3 separate regions of the Homo sapiens genome follow, and regions 2 and 3 are each linked to region 1. Evidence: fine-mapped expression QTL. A gene starts in region 1. Each other region holds a variant in brackets. All regions are shown on one strand. Distances are between the middles of the regions.

The links. PIP is the estimated chance that this variant, and not a neighbour inherited with it, causes the effect.
Region 2: its variant is fine-mapped to the expression of STMN2 in fibroblasts (GTEx, PIP above 0.99).
Region 3: its variant is fine-mapped to the expression of STMN2 in testis (GTEx, PIP 0.99).

What each region holds. Positions count from the first base shown.
Region 1 is chr8:79,606,722-79,614,911 of GRCh38, reverse strand. STMN2 (stathmin 2) reads right to left here and starts at 3,795. Exons shown (of 5, transcript NM_007029.4): 1 at 3,698-3,795. The coding sequence starts at 3,716. RefSeq lists a silencer at 1,486-1,545.
Region 2 is chr8:79,352,800-79,360,989 of GRCh38, reverse strand. No RefSeq gene overlaps it. Among named protein-coding and RNA genes, the nearest start is that of MIR12123, 25 kb to the right of the region's middle. The variant C/T (reference allele first, on the strand shown) is at 3,335.
Region 3 is chr8:79,635,175-79,643,364 of GRCh38, reverse strand. It overlaps STMN2 (stathmin 2), which reads right to left. Exons shown (of 5, transcript NM_007029.4): 2 at 6,468-6,563; 3 at 1,815-1,987. It overlaps LOC105375916 (a long non-coding RNA gene), which reads left to right and starts at 5,199. Exons shown (of 3, transcript XR_007060974.1): 1 at 5,199-5,284. The variant A/C (reference allele first, on the strand shown) is at 4,777.

The sequences.
Region 1 (8,190 bases):
AAATGATTAAATGCTTATTCCACCATCTATCCATTAGTAATTTGAAAAATAAAAACCCAAAGTAATTAAAACTGCTTTCAATGCAACAAATAAAAGTTTGCTAAAAATATTAATGAGGTAATAGCTGTAACAATAAAAACACTCATTTCTCTTTTAGAATAGAATAATTTACTACAAATCTGTAAGTCACATTATTGTAAAAAAAAACCATTGTGAATTTTGACTAAAGTTGTAGATTTTAATAGCACAAATGTCCAATCTTAATTATCATTTTAAAATATACTTTCTCTCAGAGAATTTTAACGTGCATAGACAAACACCACAAGGTCTATTAATTTATCCTATCATTCTAGCTACCTGCGACGTGTTACACTGGGACAGAGAGTGTTTATTGCAGGCTCAGCTTACTCACCTGGTATAAACTAAATACATGAGATTAATTGATAAACTACTGCCATTTCTTTCAGTTTTATCCTGAAATTCTGACCAAATCCTCAGCTTTTCATTTCTAGTTACTTATATATCCATTCAGAAGGTGCCCACTTCATTAGAAAAGATAATGGGGAATATTATATGCACCTCTTACAATCATGCTGAATACATAATTGTTTAATGAATCAGGAAAAAAGCACTCGCCCTGATAATTAATTATCTTTGAAATTGGAATTAATTTCAAAATCTATTATTTTAATACTGCAGAAGTAGTGTTTTTTTCATGATTTGCAAATGCAGTTAAATTATGGCCAGAAAGGATGCTTGCGTTTGTCATATTTGGGGTGGGATTTTTATTTGGATGGCGGCTACCATTTCACGATCCATGTATCTGTGTAGGATTGAGGCTGTATCAAGAATCAGCAGTTGGAAGAACAGTTTCAGGGGAAAAAACTTAAAATTTTGTGCATAAACTATATTTATATATTTATAGATATAACCTTATGTTGAAGATCATCTCAATTATATATGTGTATTCTCACCCATTGCAGCCACAAACAATTCTTTGCAGAGAATTTTCCAGCAATCGTTGGCACACAAACCCTGCTCTTAGCAAGCACTTGCACATGTATCTTAGCCACATGAACATACATAATCCTGGCAGGAAGCAAAAATATATTTGCTTTATAACTTAAAATGAACAACTGGAGACAAATTTACCTTTTTGTGGGGGAAAGGGATGAGGGCAATTAGGAGGAAGCAAAGCGAACGCAACAAGGGTTAATCCTTAACCAAGAGCAATCCACGTCCCTTTTGAACAAATGAGAACAAACAAGGCTACTGAATCATTAAATAATAACAACGATTTGAAATGATAATAATACTGATGATGACGATGAGTTTGCAGCCACTAGCCTGCAGCGGAAACCTTTCTGAGGGGTGCAGAAAGCGAGGCGAGATCGCCCCCACCACCCATTCTCAGAACCTTTCTGGACGTGCGAGTGAACTGCGAATTGTGGAAAGCGGGGGTAGCTCAGGACACTGCGCAGAAACCGGTCTCCCCGGCTGCACCGCGGGGGCGAGCGCCCAACTCCGGGGAGGGGAGCGCAGGGCGCGGCGCGGGGCTCTGCAGGGCTGGCTGCGCTCCACACACCCAGTCGCCACGTGCGCCCCCACCCGGCCAGCGGTAGGCGGCTCTGGGCCTCAGCTGGGAGGGGTGGGGCCGAGCCGCGCCCCGCTGGAGGAGCGAGGGTCTCCCTTAGAGAAGCCCCTCGCGGGGTCTCCATTCTGGAAAATCATAGAGAACAGAGGGTGGGCGGGGGGCTTGGGCTGGGGGAAAAAAAGCCCCGAGCTCCGCGGACCGTGGGTGGGCGAGAAGAGACAGCCCTCCCTGAATCCCTGGGAAGGGGGTCACCTCTGCGGTCTCGCGCCCGGGCTGGGTGGGGCCGCGCCTTTGTGTGGCCGGGCGGGGCTCGAGCCAGCTTTTCTGCAGAGCCACCCGCTTGGCTGGGAGGGGCTCGGTGCTGGGGCTGAGAGCCACGCCGGGGGTCTGCGCACATCAAGGGGTGCTCGGGCCGTTGTGGACTGCGGGGCTGAAAAAAGAGGTTCCAGGACTGCATACAGCTCAACTGCCCCTCCCATATTCCTCTTCCCCGCCAGTCTCGGAGCCTGAGGTCTCCCCGGCTCCGCGGGGAGGGTAGGGCAGGGCGGAGCCGCGCAGATGGAGTCCTTTCGGCAGCTTTCCCTGTCTCCGCATCCTGCAACCAAGTCCCGGGGGACACGTGCTTCCAGCTGCCACAGGACCCCAGGCCCCACCCTGCCTTTTCACCCCGGGGCCACTGAGCGCCAGAACCGTGGGCACTCAAGGCACAAGACCAATTGCGGATGAAGGCCCTGAATCCAGAATCTTTTCCGGTCATCCTGTGTCTCCACTGTCTTGTCTCTCTGAGCTTATGAAATTGCCGATATTTGGCACTGTCTGACCCACAAAACGGAAATTTCGCGTGGCTTAACTTAAGACTTTGACCTCTTTTGCTTTATATACGATTTCATGTCATCTCTATTATTATACATACACATGTCTAGGTTCTAGAAGCTTTTCCCGCAAACGATCAAAGGTCTTCAAAGAACCCTTTATCTGTGTCTATGTCTAAACACTCTATGTAATTTGCTTCCGAAAAGAAAAATGTTAACCCACTTTTCCCATCTCTCTTAAAAGCAGAACAATGAGGCCAGCGTGGGGAGGGCGGGGTCAGTGGTCAGGTCTCTCTTGGAAGCCGCGGCGGGGAGTCGGGAGCGGGGAGCGCGGGGCGTGGCGCCGCTGTCCCCGCAGGGTTGGGCTCCTGGGTGTCACGCTGCGCTCCCCACCCGACCCCCTTTCGAATGAAGATGCAGCACCGGGCGGGGGGGCGGGGCTGCGCGGTTCCGCACTGGGTGGGGCTGTCCGCATTGTGCGCCCAGCGCTGCAGGTGCCTCCCCCCGGGACCGCTGGTCCGCACACAAAGAAACCCCACCCCAGCGCCTTCGAAGCCGCTGTCCCTCCACCCCTCCCTGCCGCGCGCTTCCCCGCCCCTGCAGCTGCCCACCCGCGCCCTCCACGCCCTCCGCGACTTCCTCTCTCCTTCCCCTCCCTTGCCCTAAAACAAAGGAGCGGAGGTCCTACCCCCACCCTGTCCCCCGCCGTCTTACCTCCCTGCACCGCACCCCAGGACTAGCGGTTTCTTCGACGAGACAATACCGTAAAATGTGCCCAGTTCTCTCCATCCCCTCCCCCCGTCTCCACCCATCTTTCAAACAGCGGGATGGGACCGCTTTGACTTTGCAATTTTCTTTTTCCTTTCTCCCACCTTCCCTTTACCCCTTTCCTATTTTCTTCTTAAACTAGAGAAGAAATAAAAAAAAAAAAGGTCGTTATAAAGCACTTTCCAAAATGTCCCTTAAGCCCATTTAAGGCAAACAGTTAAGGTAGCTTCCTCCCCTCACGATTGAGTCCTAATTTTAAATATGGAAACAGAATAAATTCTCTACCCATAGGAGGGCAACTTACCCGCTTCTACCTTTTAAAAGAAATTCTTCGCTTTAGATTTCCATAGACCTCTTCTCTGCCCTCCCACCTCCCCCAGAACTGCCCTGTCCTTCCTGGTCCTGTGTTACCATTAACATCTTTTTCTTTATAAAATATCTCTGAATGCTTCTAGAGCTCAAGAGAGGAGGTGAGAGGTGGGCTCCAGGTAGAGCCGACGGAGAACGAGGCGCAGTGCCTTACCCATTGCTGTTTTAGCCATTGTAGGGATGTGCAGACGCTGAGCAGTGGCGAAGGCAAAGGGTCCGGCTACAGCAGCGGAGAGAGCGAGAGAGAAGACTGAATAAGGCACTGAGTCTGCAGAGTGGGACCGTGCTAGAGAAAGAGCAAGAGGCAGGAGCCCATGAATAATTATCACTCAGAAGCTCAAGCAGATTGGCTCCCAAGGTCCCCTGACATGACTCCCGCAGAGTCAGAATCTCCAAGCATTAAATATTGATCGGCCAATGGTGCTGGAGTACAAAGTACCAGAATGCAGTTTGAAATGGAAATCAGTCCTTCCCTGTCGGCTCCCCCCATTTTGGGGGCCTGATAGTACAGTCCAAGTAGAGTGGAGCTTTAAGCCCTGAAGCTTCCTAGGAGCTAAGAACTGGGCTGTGCCTACCTGGGAGCCAGGAGGCTTGACTTTGCTCATACATGTGCCATTGCACAATTCAATGGAAAAGGATTCAGAAGCTTGAGAAGTCCTCACTATATGCAGGCTGTTGGAAAATTCTGTTTAAATACTGTGTTTTCACTTTTTCATATTTTCTTTCACCTTTGGCTCTGTCCTTGGTTCTAGTCTTTCAGGGCTACCCTATGTCTGGCTATGGTGGCAGCTCAGAGCAGACTTGCATTATTGTCCTTTATCTTTTAGCACAGCTGGACTTAGGCGTCTCTAAACTCTTGAAGGTCTCTCAGGAGAGGGAAGCATGGTGTTTTCTTCCCTTGGCACAGAGGAAGGGGCTACCTGGTTGCTTGGGAATAGGGATGGTAATAATGGTCCACCTGGGGACATGGGGGAAGAGGAAGAAAGTTTAACCTCTGGTGCCTGTGTCCTGTCCATTTGTTAACACGGCAGAAAACAGGTTGGCTGGCTGGTTTGGGCATTAAGGAAACCACAGGTGAATGCCATGTTGCCCTGAAGGTGTAGGATTAAGTGGGTCAAAATTTTAGTAACCTTTCCAGGGCTCTAAGGAGAATGCTTTACATGGAAAACTTAGAAGAGATGAAAGGTGTGGTCTGGGTCATTATTTTTCTGAGATCCAGAGAGACTACGTTTATGTAGGCCCAGGAAGGCTGTGTTCAAGTTTCGGATTGAGCAATGTCGTATGTGAGGATCTTTGAGACTAGTTGCAAAAAATGACTTTCATTACAAACAAGGCATTTATTAGTTCCTCCTTCTCACTTAATGGATGCCAGTCATTCATTTGTTCTCTTTCACTTGACTTAAATATGTATTGAGCATTTACCATGTGCACAGCTCTGAAAATGGTGAGAAAAAGTTTAGGAGTTGCTGCATGAAGTTTTTAATTACTGCTAATTTAACTCTTCTGTAACTTTATTGAGCCAGTCTAATTCCATGCAGAAACTGGTTTTAATATTAGAAAAATAGGCAAAGAATTGCTAATTCCGACGTTTGAAAGCCAAAAGAAGAGCACATTGTTGCAATCATGAACAGGTATGAAACCCTGGCAAGTTTTTAATTTCAGAAAAATGAATGTATTTTTTTCTTCTTATTAAAATAGGTTTTTAGCAGCTTTCTGTCCAATCACATTTCAACTTTTTTTTCTATCCTCAGGAACAATACACAGTTTCAAATACATAAAACCAATTGAAAATAGCAGGGCACTCTCCTTGGTGCTGAAATGAATTTCTTCACCTCCTATTAACTTGTAAGACATTTTAACCTCATGGACATTTTGCTGACTGATAGGATGCTACTGGAACTGGAACAGTTTTGACCTGCTGAATCATGGGGAAAATAAAAGATGAAGTGGAGATCAATAAAATTATTTCTTGAACAGGAAGATTAGAAATTATATTTCCTATCTTTGAACAGGTCTGTGACTATGACACAGCAAGAGAGCAATATGGAAGTTGGCAGGGTCTGGAAATAAATAACCATTTTCTCTCTATATATAGGCATTTCCCACTTTAAATGTAACAGTTAATCACCTCTCACTGGAGTAGTTATCACTCATGAGGTGAAGGATCTTCAGCATGTCTGTGTGACTAATATTTTCAAAGTATTTCTCTTCTCCCCACCACACCCTTTCCCCTCAGGCTGTGTGTCATCTCTACACATTCTTCAGCTTCCTTGGAGAACAAGGGCCCTAAGTCATGGCATTAGTTTCTTTAACAACTGCAGTTGGCTGCTGAATGAAATCGATTGCACTTTTGATGACTATGAGGAAAACAAAACACTCATTCTACTGCCCTAAGGGTCACATATGTGACTCTTTTCTATTTCCGATTTTCTAGGTGTTAGCCACCTAACTTCAGTTATGAATGATTTTTAAATAATGTCAAACAGGGAAGAGAGTAGGTCAATATGATTTACCATAGAATAAAAAGATAGTAGGCAAAATTGTCAATCAGCTAAGAAAACACAAATAAATTCAAAGGGCTGTGCCATTATCAAATTGTTTTTTGTTTTCTTTTATCATTACAATATGGTATCATGCATATTCACATGGGAAAGTAAGGGTGAAATATGAACAGAAAAATTATTTCATATTCAATATGTTATTCACTTATTCATTTGTTCAGCTAATTTATTCAACAAATATTTATTTGATGATGTTTCAGGCTTTTGTGATGCCAGCCAAGCTTCTCCTTAATGTCTGAAAAATAGAAAGTGAAGGAAAATATAACACCCATCTCTTTAAGAAAATATTAATTTGGGGGAGTGAATATGATCTTGTGTATTGTGGATCACACTTTGTTGCAAAAATTTGAAAAAATAACCCAAACTGGCACTAATAATAAAAGTGCATTTGCTGTTTCGTCTAACCATATAGATAGAGTTGGCCCTAGAGGTCTGGAGGTGAGATCAGCTTTTCCTGAAGGAAATGGTTTTGATGGGAATGGGTGGACACTCAAAGAATAGGTACTACATTTGCACAGTATAAACTAAGGACAACCAGTATCTGTCGTGTGGGGATTTGGGTAGACTGAAGGGTTATCATGTATGAACTGTCTAAGCCATCATGGATATATAGTAATTTTAAGTACTATGACTATATTTAGTGTTTCCAATACATTTAAACCTTTGAAAGGTAGAGAATGAATAGTGTATATCTTTATACCCTTCCTAGTGGTTGGTTTCATGATTCACGTGGTAGACAGTTAAAAACAATTTGTGAAATAATAAATAATACAGTGTTGAAAATGATTCAAAATGGATGAATCCAGTGAGACCATATTGACACTTCTAACCTCCTTTGCTTAGCTTGTGTTGGGAGCAGGTATTAGGCTGTTTACCAGTGTTTATTTATTTATATCCTGCCCTATTCCCAAAGAACCTAAATGAGTAGAGCTCACAATAGTAGATGGCCCTTGTTAATTTTTGTTATCTTTAACAGCCAGCAGTAAGCTGGAGCTGTGGAAATCACAGACTTGCTAACAGAAATTTTAATTATTGTGGGTTATAGCCTAGTGTGTATTATCTCTGTGAGGAGGCCTGAGGTGTTGATTTCTTTCCAAACCAGAGAGAAGCAGTTGCTTTGGAGGATTAGCTGATGCCATCTAACACAGTCATATGATTTTCTGCTATTCATAATCAAGTGCCTGGGAAAGAATCCTAAAGTAATTATTAAAAGTTAGTGAGATAAGAGAAACATTGTTAAGGTCAAATTAATTGTTTTGATCTGACCTCAGGTGATTACAAAAGAAATGTGAGAGATAAAATCCATTGAATTTTTTTAGATGTTTAGAAATTTAGGATATAAAGTAGTTATAGCTGAAGATATTTAGAGATGCATCTAAAATAATCACACATGAAAAAATAGTTGACTTTTTAACATTTTGATTATTTTGCCATGTTTAAATTCTTATAGATTAATGAAAAATAAAAAGGATCATGTGTCCTTTAATAGAACTGTCTAATATGGTTTATTCAAAAGGAAAGTCATTCCAAGGAGGGAGAGTTGGTGTTCTTTATTAGCAGTGAGCTCTGTATTGCTCAGGAATTTGCCAGTGTGTTAGAGTTATTTCTGAAGTGTGGAACAAACACACTTCATTGTTTTCTTCTTAAATTAGTTATTTAAAAATAAACAATGATTAGTTAATTATTATTATTTTTTCTCTACCTAGGGTTTTCTTTATGTCCAAATGGGACTTGTATGTATTAATAATTAGTATAATTCACCCTGAAGCAAAATGACTTATTGAAATTAGTAAATCCTATTGATAGTTTTATAATTGAACTTTTCTGGAAATAAACTTGTTCTAATCATAAGAAAGGCTTGATATAAATTTAATGAGCTGAATCTTTACATTAAATTGATAATGTTGAAAACTACTCGCTATCTTGGCAGCAATTACTGTAACTAACTTTTTCCTTCTCTCCATGAGTTGATTTACAGCTTGAGTCCAGGGAGAACATTAGTTGGACACCATTGAAGCTGGGAAGTTGGTTCCCCTTGAGATTTCACTCAGCATCTTAGTTTACAAACCAAACAGTGGAGACAACA
Region 2 (8,190 bases), 250 kb after region 1:
TCAGTAAGTAAAATATGAAATGATAACGTGGTGTGCAGTGAAGAATTCAGTTAACTCAAGGAGAGGTCTGGCCTTTACCTTCAGCTACTGAGAGACGATCTCTAGTCCCTGGAAATATCATGCCTGATAGGAATGTCTTTGCTTGGGGAAGGGACTGAAGAATAAAGGAATTAGCCTGAAATTCTGGGAGGTACTGGAGACTAAAGGGCAGCCACGTGAATAGTATGTGATCAAACCCCCATAAAACCTCTGGACACTGAAAGCTTGGGTGAGCTTCCCTGGTTGCCAGTACTCTGAATTGTTTCACATCAATGCTGGGAAGGTCACATATCTGTGATTCTGCAAAGAGAGGACAACAGGATCTGTTTGTTTGGTACTGATACAGACAGGAGACAGGGAAGTACTGGGTGGAAGAGGGTGGTTCCCAGACAAAGGCCCCAACCTCAAGCCTGCATACCTGTGGCCCTAAATGAGAGCAGGCATTCCTGTTTTTGCACCCAAAAAGTTGCCTTTTGGCCTTCAAGGCCCCCTTAAACCCCGAACTCCAAGCTCCAGAGCAGACCAGCAAGCCAGCAGAAAGGAGACAGATGGCTGAACGACGTGGCAGAGAAAGGGAGAGGAGAGGAACATCTGAACGCCCGGAGGAGTTCGGCTGGGGCGTACAGAGTGGCGTCCAGCCTCTCGGCAGCTGGATTCCAGGGGAGGATCGCTTTCCCACTCCATCCCCCACTTCTGACTCCCCATCCATCCTGCTGAAAACCACCTCCACCACTCAGTAAAACCTTACATTCATCCTTCAAGTCCGTGTGTGCCTCGATTTTCCGCGGATGATGGACAAGAGCTCGGGATACAGGAAGGCGTCACAGTGGCCTCTGCCCTTGCGAAAAGGCAGAGGGTGAGCTGATTAACACTCAGGCCATCTGCGGATGGCAAAGCTGAAAGAGCTCTGTAACACTGGGGTTGCAGACACACATCCCCAGACACTACCGTGGAGCTGGAGCTCAAAGTGCTCTCCTGGCTCCTGCACCTGCCGGTCTGCATGCTCACGCTCCCTCAAGGGGTTTGAGCAGCGGGGCGACTGAACATTTGGGCCACACTCCTGTCACACTTCCTGCGAAGGGGATAAGGAACCTAGAAAATGTTTCAGTACCTTTTCTAGACTCTTTCTGGTATTTTCCTCCCTTGGCTGATTTTGACTGTTACTCTTTCTCTGTTGTATATCATGACCATGAGTATAACAGCTTTCAGTAAGTTCTTTTAGTCCTTCTAGTGGGTTATTAATCCTGAGGGTGGTTTTGAAAACCATTCCCCTATATACACACACACACCAGATTTGCAATTGATGTCAGAGGTGAGAACGGTCTTGTATAGGCTGTATTCCCTTCAACTTTGCAGTTGGCTAAATTCAATGCAGGTGTTCATCAGAGATAGTCACAAATATTTAAAGTCTCCTTCCAAGCACTATGCAATAGAGGTATAGTATGTCTGTTAAACTGCTGCTGTTTTAGATGACTGAAATTTGGGGATTGTTTGTTACTGCAGCATAACTTAGACATCCTGACAGATGAGCACACAAAAATAAAACCTTTGGCTCTAAATTAAAACCAGAAGAGTAAATTTATTTTTCTGCATTTTTGTAGGCATTTTCTATGAATATGGATTTTGTGGTTACAGTTCTGTGCTATCTTTGTTGAGTAAATCAACCCATAATTTATTATCTAATATCAAGTGTCTTAGTCCTTTTGGACCCCCATAATAAAATACCATACACTAGGTGTCTTATAAACAATGTGTCTAATAAACAATAGAAATTTATTTCTTACAGTTCTGGAGGCTAAGAAGTCCCAGATCAAGCTGCTGGTAGATTCAGCATCTGGTGAAGTTTGCTTCCTGGATCATAGCGTCTTCTTGCAGCGTTCTCACATGGTGGCAGGGACTGGGGAGCTCTCTCATGCCTCTTTTAAAAAGGAGTTAATTCCATTCATGAGGGCTCCATCCTTATGACCCAATCACTTCCCAAAGGCCTCACCTCCTTATGCCCATCACCTTAGGGGTTAGGATTTTAACATATGAATTTTGGGAGGACACAAATATTCACTCCATAGCATCCAGTTATGATTTTATTGAAAATTAAGCATAATCTGAGAGTAGGATTTTTCTAGACTATCATCTTTATTTTTCTACTCATATTTCATGTGTTTATGTAACATTTCCTTGAATAATGTGATCATAATACAAATATAACAGACATAAAATAGTTGAAAACTGAATAATTAAACTCTTAATAGGCACACAACTCAACTGCAAGAGGAAGTGTTCAGGTATTCAGGAGGGTAGTTTAAGATTGGAGAGTGTTCAGTGTGCAATGAGCATCTGTATTTAAATTTTACATAAGAAATGGAAAATGTTAGTTAAGAATAAGAATTAATTAAATGGTAGTTGGTTAGAAGAGCTTCTGCAGTAATTGATTAAGAAGATAAGGGTTGGAGGTCAATACTAGTTCTGATACAATTTAAAACTTTAAACCATGTGCTGTATTTTGAATTATAACACTAATCTGTAATCACTTGTTTTAGCATTTAATTTCTGGTCTATTTTTCTTAATTTCACTTAAATTACAGTATGTATTAAAACATTATTAAGAGAAGGATAGAATAAATAACAGAAGACTTTTTGCATTATTAACAATTTAATCTCTGACTCAAGGTAGTGACAAGTTACAAAGACAATTTGCATTTGCATGTTACAAAAAATAATTTTAGAATTGTCAATGTATGACTGAATAGAATGACAAGCCAATTAACGTATATCTCTAGCAAGGAGTTATGGGGGAGTGACTTCGTTTACCCAAATAATTACTTTAGTTTTTCACTCTATCTCAGCTAGGTAGAGATAGCAGTAACAATGTTTCAAGGACGTGTTAGCTGGAAGGTGCTATGGGCTCTATGGATTAAAGTGTTCCTATCCCCCATGAAGCTCCTTGATACTGACAATGTTGGGAAAAGCCTTGTGACTTTTTCAATCATGGAATCATAGAATTTAATTCATGAGGGCTTATTTAGGCAGCCCTGTTGTTTTACTAATGAGGGATTTACATGTGTGAGAAGTTATTCTGTCTTGCTCAAACACAAATAACTAATGGAAAAATCACATTAAATCCAAGGTTTCTTGCCTCCTGGGTCAGTTCTCCTTCACTGTGCTTTATCATCGTTTCTAGTCTAGAAAGTTGTTGCATACCTAAGTGTTTCATCGCTAAGCCTGCTGGCTCCATATTTTATCACCTTATCTAGCCAATGTTGATTTTTCTTTCGCAAACTCTCCAACAACTAGTTCG[C/T]AGGTTTTTCTGTAATCTGCTTTTATTTCTCAATAATATTTTCTGACACATTTCTATGTCAAGAAATATGGAACTAAATCATAATATTTAAAAAATGTATAGTAATCTGTTATGTGAGTGTATGTATGTATAGTAATCTGTTATGTGAGTGTATGTATCTACACCATAGAATATATTTTTTAAAATAACCAGTTCTTGCTCGGTAGAGGGTGGTGGTGGTAACTGCCTGACTATCCCCTGCCCTCTGATCCCTGACATAGCTGATTGAGACATGGGTGGAAATACTGATGTTCTGAAGTTTCACAACTGTATTTCTAAGACAGCATCTGTTTTCATTTACCCTGTTTAGCACTCAGTGAGCCCTTCTATTTAACAACTATTGTTTTCCTTGAGCACTGGGAAATTTTCTCATATTATTGTTCTTATTTTAAAAATATCTTCATCTTCTGTGTTCTTTCTTCTCTTTTAATGAGACTCCTGATAATAGGACCTTGGATGCTCTTCTTTTTCGGTTACTATAATTATGTAACAAATTACCCCAAAACTTAGTCCCTTAAAGCAACCTTTCAGTTTTGCTCATGATTTTGTAAATCATGAATTTTGGAAAGACTGGTTAGGCAGTTCTCACTTGAGAGTTCTAATGCAGTTGCTGTCAGATTTCACTGGAACTGCAGTCATCTGAAGGCTAAGCTGAGCTGGATGGTAAAAAGATGACTCCTCCATAAGGTGGCAATTGGTGCTGGCTGTTGGCCTGCAGATCAGCTGGAGCTGTCAACTGGAGTGCCAGTGTGTGGCTTCTTCATGCAGCTTGACTTCTTTCTTCAGAAATTGGTTGAATTCTATAAGCTTCTGATGACCCCATCCATTGTAGTGGTTTTATGTTACACTTACTGAATATCCCTTTGCTATCATATGTTTTAAAGTAAGTGTTTTAGGAAAGCATAGCATAGTTACAGAAATGCCCAAAGATCTTTTAAGTTACTAAATTTTCATGATATGAACACATTCATGTAACCAATACCTAGATCAAGATGAAAAACATAACCAGCGCTGCAGAAGACTGCAATCCTAGAGTCTCCTGCAGAACCCCTCCTCACGCTCCTTGCTTCAAACATCGTAGATTAGTCTTGCTTGCTTTTGGATTAATTTTAATGGAATCAGTATGTACTCTACGTCCAGCTCCTTTTGCTGCACATTATGTCTGTGTGAGTCAATAACATTTGTTGATTTATTATCCTTGTTATATAATTACATTGTATGAAAATGCCATAATTTAATTGCCTATTTTACTGTTAATGTACATTTCTTTCAGTTTTTGGCTTTTATCAGTAGTACCTTATTGATTCTAATAGCTTATCTGTACATTCTTTTTTTGTTTTGTTTTGTTTTCTGACTTCCTCTTAAAATACAGTTTATTGCCCTTGATCTTTAGTTTCAAATAGTAACTATTCACAGTAAACAATGTGACACAGTAAACAACATGTATAGTAAACAAAGTACAGAAAAACAAACAGGAGAAAACAATTTGCCCCTTGTACTTCACCCAGAAGAGCCACTGCTAATATTTTGATGTATTTCCTTCTATTTTAGTTGCAAACTGTAACAACCGTTAAATAAATAAATACAATGAATTTGTAAAGTTTACAAAGTAATACTAGGAGTGATGATTGCACAACATTGTGAATGTACTAAATGCCACTGAATTGTACACTTTAAAATGGTGAATTCCACATGATGTGAGTTTCACATCTATTAGCCTCGCAGGCTAGGAATACTGCCAATACCTCAGGAACCACAGAATTCATCATCTCTTTCCTTTTCCTTAAAGTATGACCTCCTGTGTGAGCCCTTCAACAAACTGTTTTTCAGCTTGTCCTGCTTTTGAACTTCATACGGATTGAGGGAGACCGTGTGTATTTTCCATGGTTTGCTTCTTTCTCAACACTGTCTCTTTGATAATGATGTGATGAATTACTCATTTTCACTGCTGACTAGAAGCCCACTGTGTGGAGGTCCCATCACTCAGCTGTCCACTCTGCTGCCACTGACACATGGGCAGTTTTGCCCAGGAGCAGGGCATCACAAACACCCAATTGGAGTCCAGTGTGACAGTTTTTCCAGGGCCTGTCATTGTACAACACATCATTTCACTTTGTTTTTCTTTTTTTATTATTATAATTTAAGTTTTAAGGTACATGTGCACAACGTGCAGGTTAGTTACATATGTACACATGTGCCATGTTAGTGTGCTGCACCCAGTAACTCGTCATTTAACATTAGGTATATCTCCTAATGCCATCCCTCCTCCCTCCTGGTGTGTGATGTTCCCCTTCCTGCGTCCATGTGTTCTCATTGTTCAATTCCCACCTATGAGTGAGAACATGCGGTGTTTGATTTTTTGTCTTTGCGATAGTTTGCTGAGAATGACGGTTTCCAGCTTCATCCATGTCCTTACAAAGAACACAAACTCACCATGTTTTATGGCTGCGTAGTATTCCATGGTGTATATGTGCCACATTTTCTTAATCCAGTCTACCATTGTTGGACATTCGGGTTGGTTCCAAGTCTTTGCTATTGTGAAGAGTGCCGCAATAAACATACGTGTGCATGTGTCTTTATAGCAGCATGATTTATAATCCTTTGGTTATATACCCAGTAATGGGATGGCTGGGTCAAATGGTATTTCTAATTCTAGATCCCTGAGGAATCGCCACACTGACTTCCACAATGGTTGAACTAGTTTACAGTCCCACCAACAGTGTAAAAGTGTTCCTATTTTTCCACATCCTCTCCAGCACCTGTTGTTTCCTGACTTTCTAATGATCGCCATTCTAACTGGTGTGAGATGGTATCTCATTGTGGTTTTGATTTGCATTTCTCTGATGGCCAGTGATGATGAGCATTTTTTCATGTGTCTTTTGGCTGCATAAATGTCACAACAAAAGCCAAAATTGACAAAAGGAATCTAATTAAACTAAAGAGCTTCTGCACAGCAAAAGAAACTACCATCAGAGTGAACAGGCAACCTACAGAATGGGAGAAAATTTTTGTAATCTACTCATGTGACAAAGGGCTAATATCCAGAATCTACAATGAACTCAAACAAATTTACAAGAAAAAAACAAACAACCCCATCAAAAAGTGGGTGAAGGATATAAACAGACACTTCTCAAAAGAAGACATTTATGCAGCTTATCTGTACATTCTTTTAGATTTTTTCGCCTAGTCAATTATTTTGTAAATAATGACTTTCACAGTAATTTTAGAAAGCTTTTGTGTGGGAGAAAATATAAATGCACTTATTTAGATTGCCTTCTTGCACCAGAAATCTGGAAAGCATGGTTTCACGAATAGATACATTACTAAACCTTCCTTCAGAAGTGTTCTATCAGTGTGTCTTCCTAACAGTGTGAATGAATAGCAGCTTGGTTATAGCTTTTCTGATATTCTATACTTTTCCACATTTTTAATATTTGTCCATCTCTTACCCCAAAACAAAACCTTTGAAAAATGTATTAATTATTGAAAATTTGCATTTCTTTTGTAAATTGCCTTACTATATTCTTGATCATTTTTCGAGTGTCTTATGCATTAAGATTGCATTTGATGTACAAGAAATTTGACACACAGTGACTTAAATAGGTGAGGGTCAATACCGTGACCCTACAAAGTTTTCATGACATTCTTAGGATGTGGCTTTCATTTCATAGTAGTCCCCTTGGTGTAAGATGACTATTCTTCCTCCGGCAGCAGGAAGGAGCTGGGGTAAAAGCTCATGCCACTTGTGTCTCCTCCGGTTTAAAGTTTTCCCTGAAGCTTTGTCCTGTGACTTCTGCTTCTATATGACTGTCCAGAACTAGGTCATATAGTGCTCCCTCACTGCTGTGGAGTAGGGAATGTAACTAGAGATGGTGTAATTGCCACTTCAAACAAGATCAGGCTTCTGTTTGTAAAAAAAAAAAAAAAAAAAAAAAAAAGGAAGAGTAGACATTGATTAGGCAACAGCAAAATCATTTATGCTACACCAGTTCAGTTACCTGATACCAATACACATCTTCTTTTCATACATAGAATAGATTTACCTTCATTGCAAGGCAGTGTTCCAGGTGATGTGCCTCATGATCTGGTGACCTATAAGCTAACTGTGGACTAGAGTTCATCCCATATGGAGTTTGGGAGTATGAATGGTACCAGGGAGTTGTCCTGCCCTGAAGCAAGAGGGCTGGGCTTTTATACTAATATCAGTGAGCTGTTAGCTGCTGGTCAGCACTCAGCAACTGGGTTTTGTGTAACTGCGCAGACATCTGAGTCAGGTGGCTTTAACTGGCAGAGAGCAAGTCTCTGGAAAGGGGTACAGTTGGGAGACATTGGCAGCCAACAGCACAGCAGCTGGGCCTGGTGAAGGGAATCGGGGCAGGTGCCCAACACAGAACACATCAGAGAGCAAATCTGGCAACTCCTGGTTCTTCTCTCTAGGTTTCCTCCTTAATCCTTTATTTTTCCTAGCTTCTAATTCTTCTCTGTGTGCATGTTGCAGGGCAGAAGGGGAGGATTCTGCTTGTCCATTTCTTCTACTGCCTCTTCTGAGGTAGGCTGAGGAGAAGATGTCTTTTCTTGGGGTTCCTCTGCTTTCTAAGGTCTCTTTATGGATGCAACTTGTGGACTTAGAGATGAATTTAGGGGTTCAAAAATCACAAGCTGTTGCAGCCAGGCCTGGGGTTTTCTTGGCAAAGCAAGTTCCACAAAAGCTTTCTATTTGTTTCCAGTCATTTCCATGTGCAAATGACTACAGTTAGGATGTTTCACATACATAATATTTAAGCACGAAGGTTGCCTAGTTTTACTCACTGAACTCA
Region 3 (8,190 bases), 28 kb before region 1:
ATCTGCTGGCAGCAAAGTTTTGATAATGTTGAATAATTTATTTTAGCTTTACTATGAGAATAAAGCTAAAAATAACAATAAAAAAGCTGATAAAAATGTTTTAAAGCAACTTCCTGTATATATATATATATATATAGTCGAGTTAGTAGCTCAGGTTCCTGTTTTTTAAATCTAGAACAATGATAACTAGTATTTTATATATATATATATATATACACACACACATACACACACCAATATTAATATATAATCATGGTGTATATATACCAATATTAATATATAATTATGGCATATATACAATATTAATATATAATTATGGTATACATATACATATATACACATCACATATACACCAGTTACCATTGTTATATTTATATCTATAATTGGTATATGTAATATATAGAGATAGCTATATATATCTATAATATAGATATCTCTATATACCAATTACCATTGTAATTATATATATAAAAATTCATATATATATATATGACATGCTCATCGGACATTTGGAGAACATCACTCTTAGGTGAAAATTGAGATCAGCATATTACATATCATAGGAGGATTTTTTTTCAACTACAAAGATTAGTGTTTTCTTGTTTAGAAAATTTAATCTAAGGATTTCTAATGTTTGAGCCTCATTATTTGATAATACACATATTTGTGTACATATATGCATGTATATATGCACATATACTATACACAGCACATCTGTGTTTGTCCTGCATTCTCTCTTGGAGAATTCAATCTTTAGGAGGAGGATTATCTTCATTCTGTTTTTAATTATCCAACATAGAAGTGTCCAAAGTTTTGGCTGACTTTTTAGAGAAAACATCATAAAACTGTGCAGGGAACATGTTCTTAGTGATTACCTGATTCTAAAATTATATCATAAAAAATATTGGGAAATACAATGTGGGGATGAATTACATAAAAGAATTCCATTTTTGGATGATCGTGAGTACCTTGATGGGATTAACTACCATAACCACATGGTTGGAACAGACACATTCAAACAACTTCTGTTTGTGTACACAGTCCCTAGGATTTCTAAGTGTTCTCAAATAATACCCTTGGCTCTTCTTAGCCATGTGATTATGGAAAAGTAAAGATTTGGCAAAAGGAAAGCTCTTTAATATAAGCAGGGACCAATGGCAAAAAGAGAAAAATCCCCATCAAGTCTTAGAAAAAGATAAAGAACATATTCAAAGAACTCAGAGAAGGTCCTGATCTTGGAAGGACCAACTTCCAGGGCAGGCAGTGGGACTCTGAAGAGGAAAGGGGCAAGCTCTTGGCCCTTACCCTGGGCAGGAAAGATCTTGGAGGGAAGATCTGGTAATTTGTAATTCCAAGGAAAACCACGCCTGACAAAGGGGGTGACACAGATCCTGAGAGGGAGGAAGCAGCACTTCTTCCCCTCCCCACCACTGGAGTTCGCCAGGGCTGTGTTTTCTCTACAGTGCTTCTGCCTGATGGTCTAGGGAAGGGAGGCTTTTATAATAAGGGGATTCAATATACGGGAAGGGGCACTAGAGCACTGAAGCTCTTTGGATTTCTGAGAGCTCTGGTTTGGCTAGCCTAAAATTAGCATCTATCTTACAGTTTTTACCCCAACTAGCCTGGCTCTGTGTCTACTGAAAACCTATACATGTTGGCATGGCACAGGTTCAGCTGTCATTGCTCTCTGTATGTGTGTGTGTGTGTGTGTGTGTGTGTGTGTGTGTGTGTGTGTGCGTGCATGTGTGCCCGAGTGTGTGAGAGGGAGGAGCAGGGGAGGGAGAGAGAGAAGGAAAACCTATGGAAAAAGTTACCTTTCTTCTTTCCTCTGCAGCCTCCAGTTTCTTCTGGATCTCCTCCAGGGACAGGTCTTTCTTCTTTGGAGAAGCTAAAGTTCGTGGGGCTTCTGAGATAGGAGATGGTGGCTTCAAGATCAGCTCAAAAGCCTGGCCAGAGGCACGTTTGTTGATTTGCTTCACTTCCATATCTGAAAAGTGAACATTTGAGAATGTTAAGCATACAAAGCTTGCAGCATGGGTTTATTTTAATAATTTAGATTCCAGCAATTGGAAGTAGCGTTGTTATTCCGGGAGATAGGAATAAAATGCTGTTTATGAGCATTTGCTCTATGTTGTTTAGAACATATAAGACCTCTCTGTCTTTAGTGTAACTATGGATATATTTTAACAGAATAAATATTTACCATATTGAGAAATTTGACAATATCTGCAGGGAGTTGAATAACGGTAAGCATACTTAGATAAAAATAGCCTAAATTGATTTTAAATTAAGCTTTATTTTCCTTTTGAACAAATATGAGCTTTGCATGAAAATCAAGTAGCACAGATTTATTTGTTTGGAAATTATCGTAGCTGTAGGCCCTTTTTGGTTAGACGAGAAACATAACGGAGTTCTTCAGTTCTCACATATAATGAGATATCATTATCTAGATATGCGTATATATGCATGCACCATTATATATATTATCACCATTCCTGTGCTTAGGAATCACAGGAGCTTCGTTAGAACCAATGTAACTCCCTGAACAGTTGGGCATATTTGGCAAAGTCAATGCTGAAATGCAAAGCATCCTGCTGATTTCTGTTTTGCCCTTCTGTATGTTCATTGCTTCCAGTCATCAATCATGCACAGTGCCCACTCCAGGGATGACAACATCACTCTGTGATGGGGGTCCTTGTCTTCAAGATGCTTACAGTCTAATGGGGGCAATAAGACAACACCCCATTGTAATGTCTTTGCTCCTGTGTTGTTGCTGTTTAGAATATCCTCCTCTAGTGTACTCGGCTGGAGCCAGGAGCCAGGGATAGAGCCACTGTGGTGGAGGAGGGAGTGGCAACATCTACTAATCTAATTTATACACATACACATGGAATACTGTTCAGCCTTAAAAAAGTTGGGGGAAATCCTGTCATTTTTGACAACATGGGTGAACCTGGAGGACACTATGCTAAGTGAAATAAGCTAGGCACAGAAAGACAAATACCACATGATCTCACTTACATGTGGACTATTCATAAAGTTGAACTCACGGAAGCAGAGTAGAATTGTGGTTACCAGGGGTTAGGGGTGGAGACTGGGGAGATGTTGATCAAAGAATACATAATTTCAGTTAAACAGGAAGAACAAATGCAAGAGACTTATTATTGAGACGGAGTTTCCCTCTTTTGCCAGGCTGGAGTGCAGTGGCACTATCTCGACTCACTGCAACCTCCGCCTCCCAGGTTCAAGCAATTCTCCTGCCTCAGCCTCCTGAGTAGCTGGGACTACAGGCGCTTACCACCACACTCAGCTAATTTTTCTATTTTTAGTAGAGGCAAGGTTTCAGCATGTTGGTCAGGCTGGTCTCGAACTCCTGACCTCGTGATCTGCCAGCCTTGGCCTCCCAAAGTGCTGGGATTATAGGCGTGAGCCACCACGCCCGGCCGCAGAAGACTTATTGTACACCATGCTGACTATTGTTAATAACAATGTACTGTATTCTTGAAAATCACTGAAAGAGTAGATTTTTTGTTCTCATCACAAATAAATGACAGGTGTGTGAGGTAATGCATATGTGAATTTGCTTCACTTAGCCATTCTCTAATGTATACATATTTCAAAATATGCCATACACCGCAAACATATACAATTTTTGTCAATTAAAAAAAGAACTGAAGAATGGTTAGCCACTTATTTTCTATCAGTGGCTTATGTATTAAAGATAAGCAGATTATCAGACCCTTATGTTTTAAGCCTGTATAATACAAATTATAACATAAAATAGTATAATTTATAATAGAAAAGATGACAGCTAGCACCTGCTAGGACATTTATAATTACAGAACTCACAATTTAGTAAAATGCAATGATTTTTAAAAGAACCTCGCTGGTCAGCCCTCAATTTCAGATGAGCATTCTTTGAGTCCCAAACTCCATCTCTCTGGTTTTAGCCCACTGATCCTTGTTTGAAGTCTGAAGCTACCCATGATTAGGCCATTCTCTGTGGTGCACCACCATTTTTCAAGTATTTGAAAACAGTTATGTTCCATTTCAAGTTGTTCCCCCAGGCTAAACATCTTCAAGTGCCCCAGAATGACACTGTTTCTAGATCTTTACCACCATATTATTTCCTAACCTCTAAGTGCTCTCTAATTTATTAACGTCTTTTTAAAATTGTGGCAACCAAGCCAGCAGGTTATGTTCCCGTTAATGTTCTTTTAGCAGCCTGGTTAGTGCACATGGAGGTTGTGGTCAAGTAAAATGCCAGGCTGGCAGGCCTTGACCTCAGATCCTTAGCTGCTAATAGATAGTCTAGATAATACTAACTCAATAACTATATTGGAAATGATGTGGGCTTTTTCCTTCACAAATGTAAAAATGTTTTTCATTTTCCTGATGGCATCCAAGATTATACTTAAATTTTAAATACAATTTTATAAAAATTATGGAAACCTATGGATAAGGATTATAAGAGAACACGGGCAAATAAAAACAGCTTATTTGATAAGGTGATGGGGTTTTAAATGCCTTAGATTAGAGGCTCTGGAATTAGAACTGCCTATATTTGCATCCAAATAGTAAGCCCCTCTTAATAGCTGTGTGACACTAGGTAAGTTAATTAACTTCTTTATGCTTTTATTTCCTCATTTAAAAGATGGAAATAAAAAGAGTACCTTCCTTCTAAGGTGGTTGTGAAGATTAAATGATAAAGGATGCTGAATGCAAAGCACAAGCCATATACTTAGTGCTTACAAATGTAAACAATAATAATAATTT[A/C]TTGTTATAATGTTTGCCTGCAATAAACAAGTCACGTTATTATCTAACATAGAAATACCAGGTCAAGTTAAAGACTGCAGAAATTTGAAATTCTCTACGGACTCTTTTAGGAAGCACAGTTTACGAGAAATGTTGAATTATCTATTCAACTTTAAATACAGCTCAATAAAAATTATGGAAGCCTATGGAAAAGGATTATAAGAGAACGCAGGCAAATAAAAACAGCTTATTTCAAGAATCAGCTCACACATAACTTCACATATTTTCTTCCCCTTTTTTCATTCCCTAACCCAGCAAAAACCATCCCTGGCTCCTTTGTCCTAACCACTCTGTGTTCTACATTCTAGTCATTTGTGTAAGACTCTTCTACTAAGCCCTGAATTCTTTGAAGGTGAGGACTACGCCCTATGGAACTCTGGATCCTCAGTGACAACCCATAGTTCGACATTAGTCTCATAAGAAACATAGCTGGATCCTTCTTCACAGCTACATCTAGCAAATAATAAAGGTCTGTCTAATTTATTTGCTGACCGAATGAATTTGTACAAAGTAGGCATTGGCCCTGCATTCTAATGAATGTTTTGTTTGGAGACAGAATTCCTTTCACATGGAGGACATTTCCTTATGGAACAGTTAATTAGCATTTATGATTTTTGTGCTACGATAGAATAACTTTGGAAGGTAAATGCCTTTGAGTCCTTGAATAGGCTTTAAAGGTGCAGAAGGGGTTAACTGCCACAAGGTCAGTTTGTTTTGTCATTAATGTCTTTCTTTACATATATGGAAAAGAAAAATATTTGTGAGCCTGAGAGTTAGTAAAATATGCCTTAGGGATATCTAGGATACATAGAACTGTATAAAATATTTTAGTTAAATTGACTGAATTAGGTAAGGATGATGTTGATAATGATAGCTATCATTGTAGAGTGATATAATGAGCTAGGCTTGGTTTTGCATATTTGACTTACATTAAACCGTTTAAACCTCACAACAACTCCAAGAGGAAGATGCTAGAGTTAAATGAGACTTAGAGAATCCAAGTATCTATTTGACCAAGATCATGTGGATTGTGGCAGAGCCAAAGTAAGCAAAATGAATCAGGATAAATCAAACCTAAAGAGTTGCACCTCAATCATGTTAATTGCCATGCTAATTCTTTAGGCTTTTCTTTTCAGACCCTCTTTATCTAGGGCCTCAGTCGTAAGTCAGTTTTATTTATTGAGCCAATTATTATTATCATTAGCTGGTTGACATGTATATACAAAGTATAGAAACTTTATAAAGACTACAATAAAGCAAAAACAATTATGGTTGTTGATTCTTTCTCTTGAGTTTTCTAAGTATAAAGCATTTTCTTACAAATTATGATCTACTCCAATTATGGCTTAGCCTATTAAATTATTTGCAAAGAAAGACCTTAGACATATTGTGGATGTTGATATGCTGGATGTGGCTGTTAATAAGAATCCATCCACATTTCTTAACAGACATTGATGTGTTGTTATTAGCACCAAATTCAAACTGTTTTCAGCAATAGGTAATCAATTGGACATAATAGCTAGACACGGCAAGTCAATAGTGAGAGCTACAAAATATTGATGTAATTATATCAGGAGCTGTAAGAAACAAATATATGTCAACCTTTCCAAATGATCTAGCTAGCAGGGGTATGTCTATCCTAGGTTACTCACCATCGTAAGTATAGATGTTGATGTTGCGAGGTTCCGGGTAAAAGCAAGAGCAGATCAGTGACAGCATGGACAGCTCCTTCATTTTTTCCTTGTAGGCTGAAATGAAAAGCTGAAGATTAGTATATTTCATTTTTTCTGAATTTCTCTTTACTGCTTCCTTTAATTTGAATAATAATTATTGCCTCCTGCAGAGTGAATATTGCCAGGTAGACTCCTTTGCATTCTTTCACTAAATATAAAGGAATGCAAGATGTCAACAGAATTCTGAAGTGCATGTTCCTTAGTGCAGAGGAGATCAATTGCATAGTATAGCAGGTTAAATAACAAGAGAAAGAAAGGGAGTTAGAAAAACAAAGGAAGGTCGAAGGAATTAAGATCTAGCAGGATAGGAGGGAGAGAGAGGAAACAGATGGAATTAGTGGAAGCAGACATGATTACCAGAGAGAGAGGCTCATTCTAGTAAATGTGCATGCAGGTCTATTGTACATAAGTAAGATTCCGGAGGGCTACTCTGATGGTTCAGCCTGAATTGCCACGTACTCATTTGGGAATAGTCAGATAACTCATCAGGATAGTTATTAAGCAAACACATTATCCAGGGTCCTATGTTGCTGCTTTCTCTTAATCTCCAAGTGCATTTTCTTATCTGTCCATCTTTTCTTTTTTCTTTCCTCTCTCTCTTTGAGACAGAGTTGCTCTGTTACCCAGGCTGTAGTGCAGTGGTGTGATCCCAGCTCACTGCAACCTCCACCTCCTGGGCTCAAGTGATGTTCCCCCCTCAGCCTCCCCATTAGCTGGGACTACAGGTGCGCTCCACCATGCCTGGATAATTTTTGTATTTTTTGTACAGACAGAGTTTCACCAGGTTTCTCAGGCTGGTCTTGAATTCCCGGGCTCAAGCAATCCACCCACCTTGGCCACCCAAAGTGCTGGGATTACAGGTGTGAGCCTCTATTTCCAGCCTCTTTCTTTCTTTCTTTTTTTTTTAATTTCAAGTTTTATTTTAGATACAAGGGGTATATGTGCAGTCTTTTTACATGGGAATATTAAATGATGCTGATGTTTGGGGTGTAAATCCCATCACCCAGGTATTGAGCATAGCACCTGATAGGTAGTTTTACAAACCTCTCTCCTTCCCCCCTCTAGTAGTCCACAGTGTTTATTGTTCTCATATTTATGTCCATGTGTGCTCAGTGTTTAGCTCCCACTTATAAGTGAGAACATGCTGTATTTGGTTTTCTGTTCCTGTGTTAATTCACTTAGGATTATGGGTCCCAACTGCATCCATGTTGCAGCAAAGGACATGATTTCATTTTTTCTTATGGCCATGTTGTATTGCATGCTTTATATTTACCCCATTTTCTTTATCCAATCTGCCATAGATGGACACCTAGTTTGATTCCATGTCTTAGCTATTGTGAATAGTGCTGCCATGAACATACAAGCACATGTGTCTTTTTAATAGAATGATTTATTCTCCTTTGGGTATACACCAAGTAATGGGATTGCAAGGTCAAATGGCAGCTCTGTTTTAAGTTCTTTGTCTCTCCCTCTTTCTACACACACCAAAGCCCTCGATCTGAGCTCTGATTACATCTGATAAGGATCTCCTTCCCTCCGTTGCAACCCAGCTTGTGTGCCAACCTTGCCATGCAGTTGCAAGAGTCCAGATTGTCACCTCCTCAATCCTTCACTCCCCTTCCCCATTTCATTTTCTCATTTT